Linked DNA regions of Homo sapiens. Each later gene encodes a partner of the first gene's protein in a complex. Links are inferred from orthologs where the notes say so. Each region holds a gene or a part of one and is shown on either strand. Other genes may lie near its edges.

Evidence for each region. Proteins that work in one complex are often made in the same cells at the same time.
Region 2: the proteins of CST3 (region 1) and CTSK are in contact, whole or in part, in a crystal structure (PDB 8V57), measured with the Mus musculus proteins. The link is inferred for Homo sapiens from one-to-one orthologs. Residues at the interface, in NP_034106.2 of Mus musculus: Pro27, Arg28, Met29, Leu30, Gly31, Ala32, Pro33, Gln75, Leu76, Val77, Ala78, Val80, Asn81, Tyr122, Pro125, Trp126, Lys127, Thr133; in NP_031828.2 of Mus musculus: Asn132, Gln133, Gly134, Gln135, Cys136, Gly137, Cys139, Trp140, Glu173, Asn174, Tyr175, Cys177, Gly178, Gly179, Gly180, Tyr181, Met182, Ser248, Ala251, Ser252, Gln257, Phe258, Val274, Asn275, His276, Ala277, Ser297, Trp298, Ser301, Trp302.

What each region holds. Positions count from the first base shown.
Region 1 is NC_000020.11:23,634,892-23,642,467, forward strand, and holds the start of CST3 (cystatin-C precursor), read right to left. Parts: upstream 3,065-7,576; 5' UTR 2,972-3,064; coding exon 2,729-2,971; intron 477-2,728; coding exon 363-476; intron 1-362. UniProt on the Homo sapiens protein: As an inhibitor of cysteine proteinases, this protein is thought to serve an important physiological role as a local regulator of this enzyme activity.
Region 2 is NC_000001.11:150,805,261-150,812,140, reverse strand, and holds the start of CTSK (cathepsin K preproprotein), read left to right. Parts: upstream 1-3,880; 5' UTR 3,881-3,927; intron 3,928-5,334; 5' UTR 5,335-5,335; coding exon 5,336-5,455; intron 5,456-5,916; coding exon 5,917-6,039; intron 6,040-6,124; coding exon 6,125-6,280; intron 6,281-6,880. Other genes in the region: ARNT (aryl hydrocarbon receptor nuclear translocator), read left to right, coding at 31-120. UniProt on the Homo sapiens protein: Thiol protease involved in osteoclastic bone resorption and may participate partially in the disorder of bone remodeling. Displays potent endoprotease activity against fibrinogen at acid pH. May play an important role in extracellular matrix degradation.

The sequences.
Region 1 (7,576 bases):
CACACACACAGGGCAGGTAATTCCTCATAATACAGCATGTATGTTCACAGAAACCCCCATGTATGTGAATGTATGTGCACAGACACCCCCACACATATGTGCACACACATATACTCACACACCCACACCTATCCATGCATAAACCCCCACACTTCCCCAACACATCCACACACCCACTTGCACACACTCACGTGCACTTCCCCACACAAACCTATACTTGGAAACACATATGCATCTCCACGTGTACACACACTCAGGCACATGCACACGTACCCTGCAGAACATGTGCATCACACACACACACACACACACACACCCCTCTGCAGTGTATGACTGGCCCTGGACCCATATAAGGCACATACCCTTTTCAGATGTGGCTGGTCATGGAAGGGGCAGTTGTCCAAGTTGGGCTGGGTCTTGGTACACGTGGTTCGGCCCAGCTCCACGTCCAAGAAGTAGTTCACCCCAGCTACGATCTACACATGTGAAAGAGCAGGAGGCAGGGACAGCACGTTCTGTCAGTTTCTTACACACACAGGCACTTCACTGTGACCGGGTCACTGGGCTTGCCTGGGGCTTCAAGCCTACCTTCATGAGCTGCCCACATTGTCACCTGCAAGGCACACAAGCCACCTCCTCCTGCCAGCTGGCAGGGATGCCATGCCCCAGGCCTCCCCGGTAACTTGTTTCTCTATGCCAATGCCAAGGATTAACTGAATTCCGCTACCTATGACCCAGGGGGCAGGGACACTGGATCTATTCTAGGAAGGTTCTCATGTGATGATGAAATTTCGGCAAACTTCCAGTTCCTGGCATTCAGTCCACAGAGCATCTCATTCCTGCCATTTAACCCAGAGGTATTTTTCCTCATTTCTCACTAGGAGATGAGATGCTCACATACATTGATGTTTTAGGCCAATAAACATTGCTTCCCACGTGCTTCCATTCCAGGTGTGATTTTCAAGGCAATATTTCTAAAGTGAGTCACACACCTGCATGTCTTAGGGTTGCAACTTCAGAAGAGAACTGAATGCTTTCCCTGCACAGTGCCGCCCCAAAACATGACTTGTCAGAACTGTGGAGAAGCATGGGATGAGGGACCCTGGGACCAGGGTGCTAGACCTTGCCCTGTGGAACCACACACAAGTCCTGTAGAAGCACAAGCAAGGCCTGTGATCCCTCTGGTGTCAGTCTGCTCCTCTGTAAAATAGGCTCCAGGGCCCAACGATCTACAATGCCCCATGCTTCACTCCCAGTGAGAGAGAGGTGCAGGCCAGCGGGGACCCTACACCAGGGAATGGCCCTCCTGTGCAGGGAGAGGGCCCCAGCTGACGGCTGCGGGAGAAACGCGGCTGGTCTGGACTCCTCTGAATTTCCAAGAGAAGGTGGAGGAGCTCTAAAGTCTGTGTCACTGTTCGCTGCTCTGCCATGGGATGCAGGTCAAGCTGGGCCTGGTAGCCCTACTGAAGCTCCCTCCCGATCCGACCCCCTACTCCGGTCTGCTGGGTGTCTTCATCTGGCTGAGGTCTAACTCTGCATCAGCTGATAGAGGCAGGGTCAGGCATGCTCCACCCCAGCAGGGACTCAGCTGCCCTGGGATGTAGGGGGTGGTCAGCCGGCCTGAGGGTGAAGGCCGCTAGTCCTAGGGGACTGTGCCCAGGGGTGTGACTTGGGGAGGGAAGCAGGGCTCTGCAGGACAAGGTGCCAGGCTCACGTGTGGCCCCTGCGGAGAGTATTCTGGGAGGAGGATGAGCCGCATGGCCTAGATCTCATCTTGAGCAGCATCAAGCCCACCCAGAGTCAGCATAGTCTCCATCCACACCTGCTAGACCCTGGGAAATGGCACGGTCGTGGCACAGACCCAGCTGCTGCTGCAGGTTAAAAGAGGCCGAGGGGACAGGACAGGGCTGAACTCATGCACTCATGGCCCAGGAGCGTCCTAGGGCACGAAGGCCGTCAACAGACAGGGAAAGCTGAATGAGTCTGAGCATTAGATCATGAATGTGTCAGTGCTGATTTTCAAAATGGAATAGTGATTATGTGCGATATTGCCCTTGTTTTTAGGAAAAACACACTGAAGTGTTTACTTTCAAAAGATTCAGGCAAAAAATGCATATACAGTACATATACACACACCCATATTCACATTCGGAAAGTGAGCTGGGGGGAACAAACAGGGCAAAATGTTAACATCTGTGCTAACATCTGAGGGATCTGGGTGAAAGATCTACAGGGATGCCCTGTGCTATTTTGCAGCTGCTCTGTAAGTCTGAAATTACGGGAGAATAAAAAGTTAAAAGAAACAAAAGTGCTTAAAAATTATTTGGTGGAAGAACAAGGAGGCAGCCAGATGAGGGGCTCTGTTTTTCCTTCTCCTGCGTATTCAGCAGCGCACCCGGAGCCCAGCGTCCCAGGAGGTCGGGACAGAGCTGTGTGGGACGTCCTGTGCCTGCCCCCGCGCTGCGGCGCAGCTCGAGCTGGCTCCTGGAAGCTGATCTTAGGCGCCGGGCGCGGACCTGACGTGTCCGTGCGGTTCCAGGCCAGGCCAGACTCAGGGCATTCCCGGACACGCCCGCCAAGGGCTCGGGGGTGACAGCGAAGACCGGGAACAGGGTCCGGGTGAGAAGCCCAGGCGCCGGAGAGGAGCAGCACGGGGTCCGGGAGCAGCGCGGGGGGAGGCTGGGACGGCGGGGCCGGGGCTTCGGACCCTGCGGGGGGCGGCACGCACCTGCTTGCGGGCGCGCACCACCTGCAGCGCGCGGCTGTGGTACATGTCGTTGCTGGCTTTGTTGTACTCGCCGACGGCAAAGTCCAGTGCACGCCGCACACCCTCCTCCTCCACGCTGGCGTCCATGGGGCCTCCCACTAGGCGCGGCGGCTTGCCGGGACTGGAGCCGGCCGCGGGGCTCACGGCCAGGGCCACGGCCAGGATGGCCAGCAGGAGCAGCGGGGCGCGCAGGGGCCCGGCCATGGTCGGCTAGGACGCGGGACGCGGGGAGTGGGGCGCAGGCGAGAGGCTGGAGCTAGATAGAGAGGACCCGCTGCGATACCGAGGCGAGGCCGTGAGCCCCGCGAGGCCGGCGACTGCGGTTTTATCCCTTCCGGCCTTCGCCGCCCCACCCCACCGCGGCCTGCACTCCCTTTTCCGGAACGCCTCGTCCCTCCCACCTCCCTTCTCCCTCCCCGCCTCCCCTGCCTCTCCCCGCCTCCCCTGCCTCTCCCCGCCTCCAGGTCCCTCCCTATCAGTCTCCTCCCATCCCAGCCTCCCCTGCCCCTCCAGGCTTCCCTGTCCTTCCCCATCCATCCCCTTCCCTCCCCTCCCAGCCCCTCCCGGCCTCTCCTCTCCCTTCCCGCCTCCCCTCTCCCTCCCCTCCTCCCCTGGCCCCCCAGTCTCCCTGGCCTTCCCTATCCATTCCCATCCATCCCCTCCCCTCCCCTCCCCCTCCTCTCCTACTGTCTTCCAGCCTCCCCTGCCTCTCCTATCCTCCCCATTCCTCCCCATCCATCCGACCATTCCCACCTCCCCACTTCGGGCCCCTCCATGCCGCCACTCTTCAGGCTCCTTCTCCTCTGTCCCTTTCCCCTTTCAACCCCCAGACACCGCCTCCCATGCCCCTCATCTCCCTCCTCCACTCCTGTCCTTGCTCCCACTTCGCCCCCACCCCAGCTCGGCCCCTCTTCATCGCCCCTCCCTCGTCCCGCCCCTCCTCTGTCTTCCCTTCCTACCCATTCCTGGCCTCTCCCTGTCCCTGTCCCTCCTATCCTCTTCTTTCCCCTCTTCTCACCCCACTCCTGGCCCCTCTTCCCCCACCCCTTCCACACCTATGCCCCCCTTCTACCCACTCCACCCCCTCAGCTCCATCTCTTCCCAAAGACCTGTCCCTCCTCCCAAGCTTAGGTCACCCTGCCCTCCAGAGAGGTGTCAAGGCCCCCTGGGCCCTAAAAGCATACGACCCCCTAGCTTCATTTCCTCAGAAAAGGGAAAGATAGAGGTCTCGGCCTTCCGGAGTCTTCAGAGGTCCTGAGTATCCGTGAGCATTTGGTCAAGGTCTAGAAATCACTAAGGCAGAGGTGTGATTCCAGAGGCCACAGGAGACTCAGGCCATGCCCTGTGCTAGGGAACTTTTCAAACAGAAGAATTAACCTTTATTTGAGTAAAAAACTCTGGGTTCTCCTTTCACAACTCATTATTCAGTAAACAGACTTTTCACCAGCTTCCCCCTGCACCAGGTAGTCTAGGAGCTAGAGACGGAGCCTGGGTGACCGAGCCATGGACACTACATTGCAGGGCTGCTGCCAGACAGAAATGTGACACGAACCCAGGAGCAATTTAAAACTTTCTGGGAGACACATTTCAAAAAGTAAAAAAGAAACAGGTGAAGGTAATGTTTATAATATTTCTTACTTAACCTAATATATCCAAAATATTATTTCAACACATAAGAAGAATCATTAATAACATAGGTTATTTTATTTTGGGTGTGTGTACTGAGTCTTTGAAATTCCCTGTGTATGTGGGTGTCAATTGTACTGGCCCCATTTCAAGCACCCTGTGGCCACATGTGGCTGGTGGCTGTGGCACTGCACAGCCCAGCATTAGGGTGTGTGGGAGGATGGCGAATAGTGATCAATAATTAATATCAGGAAATTAGTCTCTCTGTTGGAAGTGAGAGTATGGGATAGAGAGAGATGATGCCACTGGACCTGGTCAGGGAGGACTCTATGAGACTGGAAAGGTGAGAAGCCCTGCCTAGACAGGAAACAGCCCCAGGCAGCGGGAAGGGCCAGTGCAAAGGCCCTGAGGCGGGGCTGGGCATGCCTGCTCCAGGAAGAGGAAGCTCCTGGAGGGAGTGTGAGCAGGGAAGGGAACGATCTGGAGTCTCATGGTAACTGTGGGTGGGGCCGGGTGGAAGGTGCAGTGAGACCCATTGGCAGGCAGTGGGGGTGTCAGGAGAGGGAGCAGCAGCCACAGGATGAATGTGGGAGCCCACGGGTGTCTCTTGCTCCTCCCCTCTGGGCGTCATGCTGCTGGCGCTGGTCCTCTGCACTGCTTGGAAAACTCACCTGAGTTTAGAACATCACTGTGAGTGAGGTAGAATTTATAGACAACAAAATGTCTAATCTGGGGGATTTCATTAACGCATATACCCGTGTTACCACTTTGTCCAGACCTGTGACATCTGCCTTGCCCCAGACGGTGTGTCCTCCTGCCTCTGCAGCTCACCCTCATGCCCATCCTGCCCTGGCAGCCCCCATCCTGCCCTATAGACTCGTTTGTCGCCTGTCCTTGAGCTTCCCAGAAATGGAGTCCTGCAGAGCAAGCCTGGGTGTGTCTTTGTCCTTTGCTCAGTGTGGCTTTCCAGTGGGCCCTGAGTTCCTTCATTGCCAGGATTGTGAGTTCTTCTCCCCAGACTGAGAGGACCTGATCAGCTGGGTGCCCTGTGGGGTGACAAAGTCCCCAGCTTGGGATGCTGCGGACCTGGGCTGGAATGTGACTCCAGGAGTGGCGAGGGTGGAAAGGAGGCTCTGAACAGACAGCTGCTCCCTTTGTTCTCTCAACCCCACCCTCCATGCCTGAAGGTGACCCTGTGGCAAATGCCCTTATGGCGAGGTGGCAGCTTTGCCAGAAACACCAGAAAACTCTGGGCCTTTGCAGGGCACCCAGAGGACTCTCCTGGGAGTGGTGGAGGTGAGGGTCAGCCAGGGTCAGCCCAGACCTGCTGTGATCCTGGGGCTCCGCCATGGCTGGGGCTGGATCAGCAGGAACCCGGCAGCGGGAACAATATTACTCATGGATGCTCATGTTCAGTGGTGGGACAGGGGACCTTGTTACCCGAGGCCCAGTGACCATCTCACCCCACTGTCAATCCAGCGTCCCTAGAAAAGCCATGCACCCCAGCAGATACAGCAGGTGGCCCAGATGGTGTTTACTGCTGGGTGAGGGAAGGAAGGTCTTCAAACAGGGTTGCGCATATGCCTCCTAGTTAGACAGGAAATGGGGAGAGATTTTCAGAGAAGGGAAAGAGAGGGCAGCCCCTGGCCAGGTGCTTGTGAGCAGAATGGTCATCTCCCAAGTGTGGGAGTTGGTTCTTCTCTGTGGCTCCCACCTTCCCTGGCCACTGGGGCTCTAGTCTCAAGAGGATGTGTTGTGCAGAGGGTAAGCTGAAATACACACAAATCCCCTGTCTTTTGTCATTAGGAAGGACGTGCAGGTCACCCAAATAGCAGGAGCATGGTGGTAGGTGGGGTGTGAGGTGGGAGCTGAAGTGCTGGCCTATTTCCCTGTATGTGATTCCACCGCCGGTGGTCATCCTCTGTCAGGACGTGCCCTGCAGGCACATGCTGCAGGGAGGGTCAGCTGGCCTGATGCAGCGACCTCTCTAACCCTTGTAGGACAGACACCAGTGTAGGGTGCTCTCAGGAGCTGCAGGAGCCGTGTTCAGTATGCTGTAATAGGAAGTGAAAGGTTACAGTAGCTGGGCAGCTGCTCCTGATATTTGGTGACCTTGAGCAAATGTTTTGCCTTCTCTGTGGTCATGTGTCTGGAGAGGTAGACTGCCTTGTAAACTGTTGTGCCTGGGCATCAGTGATGATGTTTAAACACGATTAAAAGTAACAGAGCAGCCTACAGCTTCAAAGACATGCTACAGAGACACAGAGAGAAACAATGGACCTAGGACTGAGCCTGGGGCCTCCAGCACCCATGTACTTGGAGGAGTCCAGCTGCCCAGGAGGGGGCATATTTCCCTTCTGCCAGGTGATGAAAGAGAAAGCCGTGGTCTCCCAGGCTGCCTTTTTGACTATTGATCTCATCATCTGAATTAGTAGAGTGAGAAATTAGGTAAATGGCAGAAATTCTCTATAATAAATAAGCAATAATAACAACACTAAACAATGCTATAATAAATAAATGACCAAACACATAAACAGCACCTAAAGGTGCAAGTGGTTAAATCAAGTTGGCCAAGAGTTGAGATTCTGCACTTTGGGTTTTGAGCAATTATCACTCGGTGTCTATAGAGGGAGCTTGGACTGAGCAGCCACGGGTTTTGGTAGCCTCTCAAAGGCAAAGCCCAGGAGCCTTCCTTATGGAGTGCCCGGAGTCCTCTGGGGTCAAGCCTGTCCCTTACACACAGGCTCCCTCCTTCTCCCCTCTCTCTCCCCAACGATGGAGGAAATGCAGATGCTTCTAGACCGTAGGCCAACATTGGTAATGCATTTGGCTCCAATAGAGATGAAGCCACATCATTAGGAAACTGATCCGCACTGGGAAGCCTGCTGGCAGCCTTGCAGACTGAGGCGAGAAAGGGCAGAGCCCGGTGTCTGCGGCCCATTTTGCACTTCATGGGGGGATGAGAATCCTTGGGACATTTCTGCTCAGGAGCAAATGTGTAAACGGCGCTCATCATTTTGGATTACAGGGTTAACATTTATTTTCTCAAGGAGTGCATTCACCAGAGCAGAGCCAGTGACTGAAGAACCACATCTGAGTGGAAGGGAGAGAGAGAGAGGCCTCCAGGGACACAGGCTGCTGGCTGGTGCTGCCAGGGCTCCACCTGACTCCCTGCAGAGGCCT
Region 2 (6,880 bases), on another chromosome or scaffold:
GACCCAAACTTAATCTTTTTCTTTTATCAGGAGATGCTGTCCATGCTGGGAGATCAGAGCAACAGCTACAACAATGAAGAATTCCCTGATCTAACTATGTTTCCCCCCTTTTCAGAATAGAACTATTGGGGTGAGGATAAGGGGTGGGGGAGAAAAAATCACTGTTTGTTTTTAAAAAGCAAATCTTTCTGTAAACAGAATAAAAGTTCCTCTCCCTTCCCTTCCCTCACCCCTGACATGTACCCCCTTTCCCTTCTGGCTGTTCCCCTGCTCTGTTGCCTCTCTAAGGTAACATTTATAGAAGAAATGGAATGAATCTCCAAGGCTTTTAGGACTGTCTGAAAATTTGAGGCTGGGTGAAGTTAAAACACCTTTCCTTATGTCTCCTGACCTGAAATTGTATAGTGTTGATTTGTGCTGAGATCAAGAGGCAGGTTAGAAGAACCTGACATCCACTGTTTGCCTTGGATAGTATGGCTTGTTTTTGGAAAGAAATTCTGAAGAGAGTGGAGGAGAGGAGAAATGTCCTCATATTTGAGGACCATGAAACATTGTAGGTATATATGGGGCTTTAGCAAGTTTGAGCATAGGCTCTTTTTGCTGCCTGTGAGCAGTCCCTCTGGAAAGAAACATGTGAGTAAGTGAGAGAGAGTGTGTGTGTATGTGTGTGTGTGTGTGTGTGCGCACACATGCTTCTGTATTTCACTCTTTCTCCCTATTAGGGAGTTATGCAAAATTTGTCCCCGATTTTACCTTTGTCTTTCTGTGTACTTTTCAAAGAGTCCTAAGGAGTTAAATCTTCCAGGTATTTTCCACTTAGTATTGCAGCCAAAGAATATTTAAATAAACGTCTTTGCTGCGCTTGCATCCATGCCCAGCCAATATACAACTGTAAAGCAAATATAGAAAGTCGGCTGTTGATACGATTGTCTGTTATCGAACACATTCAGTGATAAAGCTGGGTTACTGCTGCTTTTGGTGCTCTCACCTTATCTGGAAGATCTGCAAACATTACCTAAATAGGCTGGCAAGATAAACACTTTCTGGAACCCGAGACTTGGCCATAAAGATAATGCTGCATTTTTCTGTCAGAATCACATATGATGTGTGTTCTGTAGAGGTTATTTCTGCATGGAAACTCAACTTCTTGGATTAGCCGTCCCAGTGAAAATCCTCATTGTTGGAGTGTAAACCAAATACGAAGCCCTCTTGCAAAGTAGCCTCTTTCATCCCATACTCAAAATACCCAGTTTAGCAAGCAACTGAGATTTAAGTCTCTCTGGCCCTAAGAGGTTTTTCCTCTTTGCTCCCTCCAATCTTGAGATTGGGTTTTGCTTTAGAGTGCAAGTATCATAATTCCGTATGATAGATGGGGCCTGGACACCCATCTCAACAGGGTCACTTGGTAATTAACAATAGCCATATAAATGCGGATACAGGTTACTACCCTCACCCTTTACCTTCCTCAGGTAACAGTCGTAGATACCAGCTTTTTTTTTTTTTTTTTTAAATTGGCTTTGGCCAGTAGCTAAAGTGCAAGACTGAATTAATGAGAAGATATATTAAATGTAGTCATAGGGGACTGAGGAGCAAGGGTGGCCTTGAAGAGGCCAAAGGAATGTCCATTTGCTGAGTTTCCCTTCCTTATGTCTCCAGTCTGGTGCCAGGTAGTGGAGTAAAAAAGGAGACAGTTTATTTTTTTATTCTATGTGCACACTTACAGTATACATATATATTTATATCACAATTTACGAAACCAAAAAGTTGAGTTTCCAATGGAACCCTTGTTTTTTAATAATCGACTTTTTAAATGTGATCAGGACTATAATATTGTACAGTTATTATAGGGCTTTTGGGGAAGGGGAGGATAGCGAGAAGATGCTCTGGGGGTTTTGTTTTTGCTTTTCCTTCAGGGTTTTATTTTTGACTGTTTTGTTTTCTTGTTGGCCATTTCTGTATTGCTGGCATCTGTGCTAAGCTTTACAGTGGCAAAAATAATGACATGTAGCAAAGATTTTCAAACAAAATATTTTTTCCTTTTGTAAAATTTCTTGTGTTGTGTGATCTTGATTGCGGCTTTATCATTCCTTTCCAGTTCATAAACAACAGGCACCCACAACCAGAGGAATCTATAGTTTAAGCTCCAGACATACAAACATAAGGCACATTGTGTCTTTAATTTCAGGAATCAGAAATCATAGGGTTCTGATCACATTGCACGCCTCCCCCCTCACTTGTCCTCCTGATCCTGACACATTCTGAGTAACATCAGCAGGAATGCTCTGACCATGAGGTGGGGGTTTTGGGGTGGGCGTTGCCTGGGTTCTTGGGAGAGAGGGGAAGAGTCGGGACTTGAAAACCACTAGGGCACATCTGGATGCCTTCCCCCAGTATGTCCTTTTCTGGATTAAAATGAGTGAAATTTAAACTGTTCAAGTCTGGACCTGGTTTCCCTCTAGGAGACTATGTTGGTTCATTAGCAACTTTTTTTTTTTTTTTTTTTTTTGTGTGTGTGTGTGTGTGTGTGTGTGAGAGATGGAGTCTCGCTCTGTTACCCAGGCTGGAGTGCAGTGGCACGATCTTGGCTCACTGCAACCTCTGCCCCTTGGGTTCAAGCAATTCTCCTGCCTCAGCTTCCCAAGTAGCTGGCACTACAGGTGTGTGCCACCATGCCCAGCTAATTTTTGTGTTTTTTTTTTTTAGTAGAGATGGGGTTTCACTATATGTTGGCCAGGCTAGTCTCGAACTCCTGACCTTAGGTGATCCACATGCTTTGGCCTCCCAAAGGCCTGGGATTACAGGCGTGAACCACTGCGCCTAGCCTGTTAGCAGCTCTTAAAATCCAGAGGCATAAGCCTGTATTTTTGAGGGTTTATGCATGGAATCCAGCTAGAAACTGAGTCTATTACAGATCCCATTTATTATCCTTTCTATTCCAAGAAGCCTTTTTTTCTCCTTCCCCACATCTGTTTATGGAAGAAAATGAAGTTTGGGGTGTGGTTTGAGGAATCAGCTAGATTCTTATGATCTGTCACATGCTTGGATGTTGGGGAAGCATTTGGAGAAGCTCATGTGACTTGTCCTAGATTGGGGATTTTAATTGAGACAGATGATGTTTATCGGGCATCCCACCACCTGAGAGTTTTAGCAACAGAGTCACATGTGAGTCCATCAGAACTTACGGCATTGATTCAAGTGCTGTCATAAATAACCAGGACTGCTGTTTTTGGTTACTTTTAAAGACAGTTTCATCTGGACTTTCTGGGCATATCCTCCTTCAGCAAAACCACATTAGGCTGGGAAAACTATTCTGCCTGGAAGTAATGACAACTTGCAACCAACAAGCTTATAAAAATACAAAGAATTCTGGAGCCTATGGCTTCCATTACATTATTCTTTTATAGCCTTTTATGTTCATTACCGCATCCCAGAGGTGAGAGTCAGACACAAATATGAAAATAGGTTTCAATGTTGGAGAGGTAAATCCTAACAGGAAAGGGGTAGGAAAAGATATAATCCCCCAATATTAAAATAAAGATATTGAAGAAGAAGGATGGGAGAGACTAGGGCTGTGTCCTTCCTTTTACTCACCAAAAGAGAAAGTAAGCTCCTATTTGAGTCAATAGATATTGAGGTCTTGTTATTTGCCACCAAAGACAGTCTTGTGAGACTAAATAGCTAGTAATTCCCTACCCTGGCACACATGCTGCATACACACAGAAACACTGCAAATCCACTGCCTCCTTCCCTCCTCCCTACCCTTCCTTCTCTCAGCATTTCTATCCCCGCCTCCTCCTCTTACCCAAATTTTCCAGCCGATCACTGGAGCTGACTTCCGCAATCCCGATGGAATAAATCTAGCACCCCTGATGGTGTGCCCACACTTTGCTGCCGAAACGAAGCCAGACAACAGATTTCCATCAGCAGGTAACGTTTGCAACTTCCTAGATCTTTTAGCTTTTCATTCCTGTCAATTCTCTGAGTATTAGGGATGTAGTGACTTGAGGATCACAATAAACTTTTAGCCTCTGCAGATGAAAACAGAGATGCACTTCTTAGGTCATTCCCTGGCTAAATAAAATCTGCCTGGAAATCTGTAGAATTCCTTGTATGATTTATATATATACATACATGATTGTTAGTAAAAGCAAAGTATATAGGGAATCATTTCCCCATCCTTCAAGAGTGGCCTTTCTGCAGTGTTTTCTACTTTGGCCAACAAGGATCAAAACGGTTAACTCCTTAGTGAGGAGGAGGAGAGTGGTATGGGGAGGTAGTAGCTCAGTGCTTCCTGTTCACTGAGACATCTCAAAGCCCTTAACACTCTAGTTTTTAAATGTCCTACTGGACATTTTGCCAGTTTGCAAAATTACATGTAAATGGACTATAAGCAATTGTGTAAGCCATATGTCATGCTGCAGGCTGCAAATTGTTCTTAAAATGGAGGATTTGTAATTAAGAAAGCCAATGCAAGAAATGAGTGAAGCTAACTAGAGTAAACTTATGAAAAGCTGTGAATTTCATCATCATAGAACATTGCTTTTCAGTCTGAACATTCTTCTAACAAACCTTGGATCTGAGGCTTCTTGTCCTTTGCGGCAGCCACAGTGGGTTTTTGTTGTTAGGGGAAAAATAAAAAACCTTGCCCGCAGCATCTGGTTAAGATTAGGGCAGTTTCCTGCCTAAGGAGGGAAGGGAGAGAAAAAGGAAGAAGAAATGCATAAGGAGAATGAGGAGATATACAATGTCTCAGAAAACAGGAAACATTGTCCTATTTTCCCTTGTCCTCTTCTGACAAGATCTGGGAAAGTACCAGAATTTAGGCACGAAAGAGAAGAACGCCTCGAAGAAATGATCAGGAGGCAAAACTTAGACGGAAATCTCTCCTTTGTGTATTCTGAACCCCACTACCACCTTGCTATTTGTCTGTCTCCAAGCCTGCTAGGGACCCTGGAGGAAACGCACTGAGCCCATTCTGATTGTCCAGTTTCTATCCCCCATTTCTGGTTGTGTACGTGTGTGTGTGTGTGTGTGTGTGTGTGTGTGTGTGTGTGTGTGTGAGAGAGAGAGAGACAGAGAGAGAAACAGAGAGAGTGTGTGTTGCCTAAATCTCCCGAGAGAGAGAGAGAGAGAGAAAGAGAGAAATGGCTAAATCCCCCTAGATCAAAGTCCTTGGAACCAGATGTACCAGCATCCTATCTAAACACAGGCCCCTCCTGACTATCATTGTTTTATCACCCTTTTTCCGTCTACCTTTCTCTTCCTCATAAAGCCTAGTTTTCCTCTGTTTCCCTGCCAAATGGAAGAGTTTTCCCTAACTACATTCTTCTGCAGGATGTGGGGGCTCAAGGTTCTGCTGCTACCTGTGGTGAGCTTTGCTCTGTACCCTGAGGAGATACTGGACACCCACTGGGAGCTATGGAAGAAGACCCACAGGAAGCAATATAACAACAAGGTGCCTGGGGTCCTGGAGGGGGCATGGCAGGAAGGCTGAGACCTGAGCTCTCTCATCTTAGCTTCCAGACTCCCTTCTTCAATCCAAATGCTTTATTCCAAGCAAATCAGTCCCTCTTCCCTAACTCATGTTAACATACGGTTTTCATTCCTATGCTTCAAATCATCCTCTGTCAAACTGTATCCTTCCTTTGCTTTATAAGTGTGTTACATTTCTCTTTTGGGAAGAGTTCTAAGATTAATGCTGTTAATCTATAAGCAATTTTTCTGTCTCTCCAGAGCTTTGTGTTGTATTTGTTTACATATTATCTCTTCTTGCAGGCTCTTAATTCCATGGTTAGTTCCCCAACTAAACTGTAAACTTTTATGATTGTGAGTTTCCTTTATTCTCCTAAAACCCTTCACAATATTACATATGTAACTGTAGACAGTCTATACAAGTACTGACTATGCTTTGTTTAGGTGGATGAAATCTCTCGGCGTTTAATTTGGGAAAAAAACCTGAAGTATATTTCCATCCATAACCTTGAGGCTTCTCTTGGTGTCCATACATATGAACTGGCTATGAACCACCTGGGGGACATGGCAAGTATAGCTTCAGCTCCTGTCCCACCTGCACCATTTGCTTTAGTTCCCTGCTGATGCCTGGCCTCTTTCTTCTTTGTCTTAGACCAGTGAAGAGGTGGTTCAGAAGATGACTGGACTCAAAGTACCCCTGTCTCATTCCCGCAGTAATGACACCCTTTATATCCCAGAATGGGAAGGTAGAGCCCCAGACTCTGTCGACTATCGAAAGAAAGGATATGTTACTCCTGTCAAAAATCAGGTACTCTCCTTTCTTCTGGGTGTGCATATGTAATCTGGCATGACCTTTTCCTTTTTCTGCTGCTTTGTTCTTGAGGTGAAAGGGCACCAGGAAAAGAGGGCAAGGAATTAAGGTACATCTCCCCATTCCCATTCTGTTATTTAACCTCATTTGTTTCTGTACATTTGGGTTGTTTCTGGTTTTTCTTTTTCTTTTCCTTTTTTTTTTTTTTTTTTTTTTTTTGAGATAGAGTCTCACTCTGTCGCCCAGGATGGAGTGCAGTGGTGCAATCTTGGCTCACTGCAACCTACACCTCCCGGGTTCAAGCGATTCTCCTGCCTCAGCCTCCTGAGTAGCTGAGATTACAGGCACGCGCCACTACGCCTGGCTAATTTTTCTATTTTTATAGAGATGCGTTTTCACCATGTTGGCCAGGCTGGTCTTGAACTGACCTCAGGTGATCCACCTGCCTCAGCCTCCCAAAGTGCTGGGATTAGAGTCATGAGCCATCGCGGCCTGGTTTTTCTTTATTACAAATAGTGTTGCAATAAGCACCCTTGTGCATATGTTTTTGTGCACATGTACAAATATTTATGCAAAATAAGTCCTAAAATTGGAATT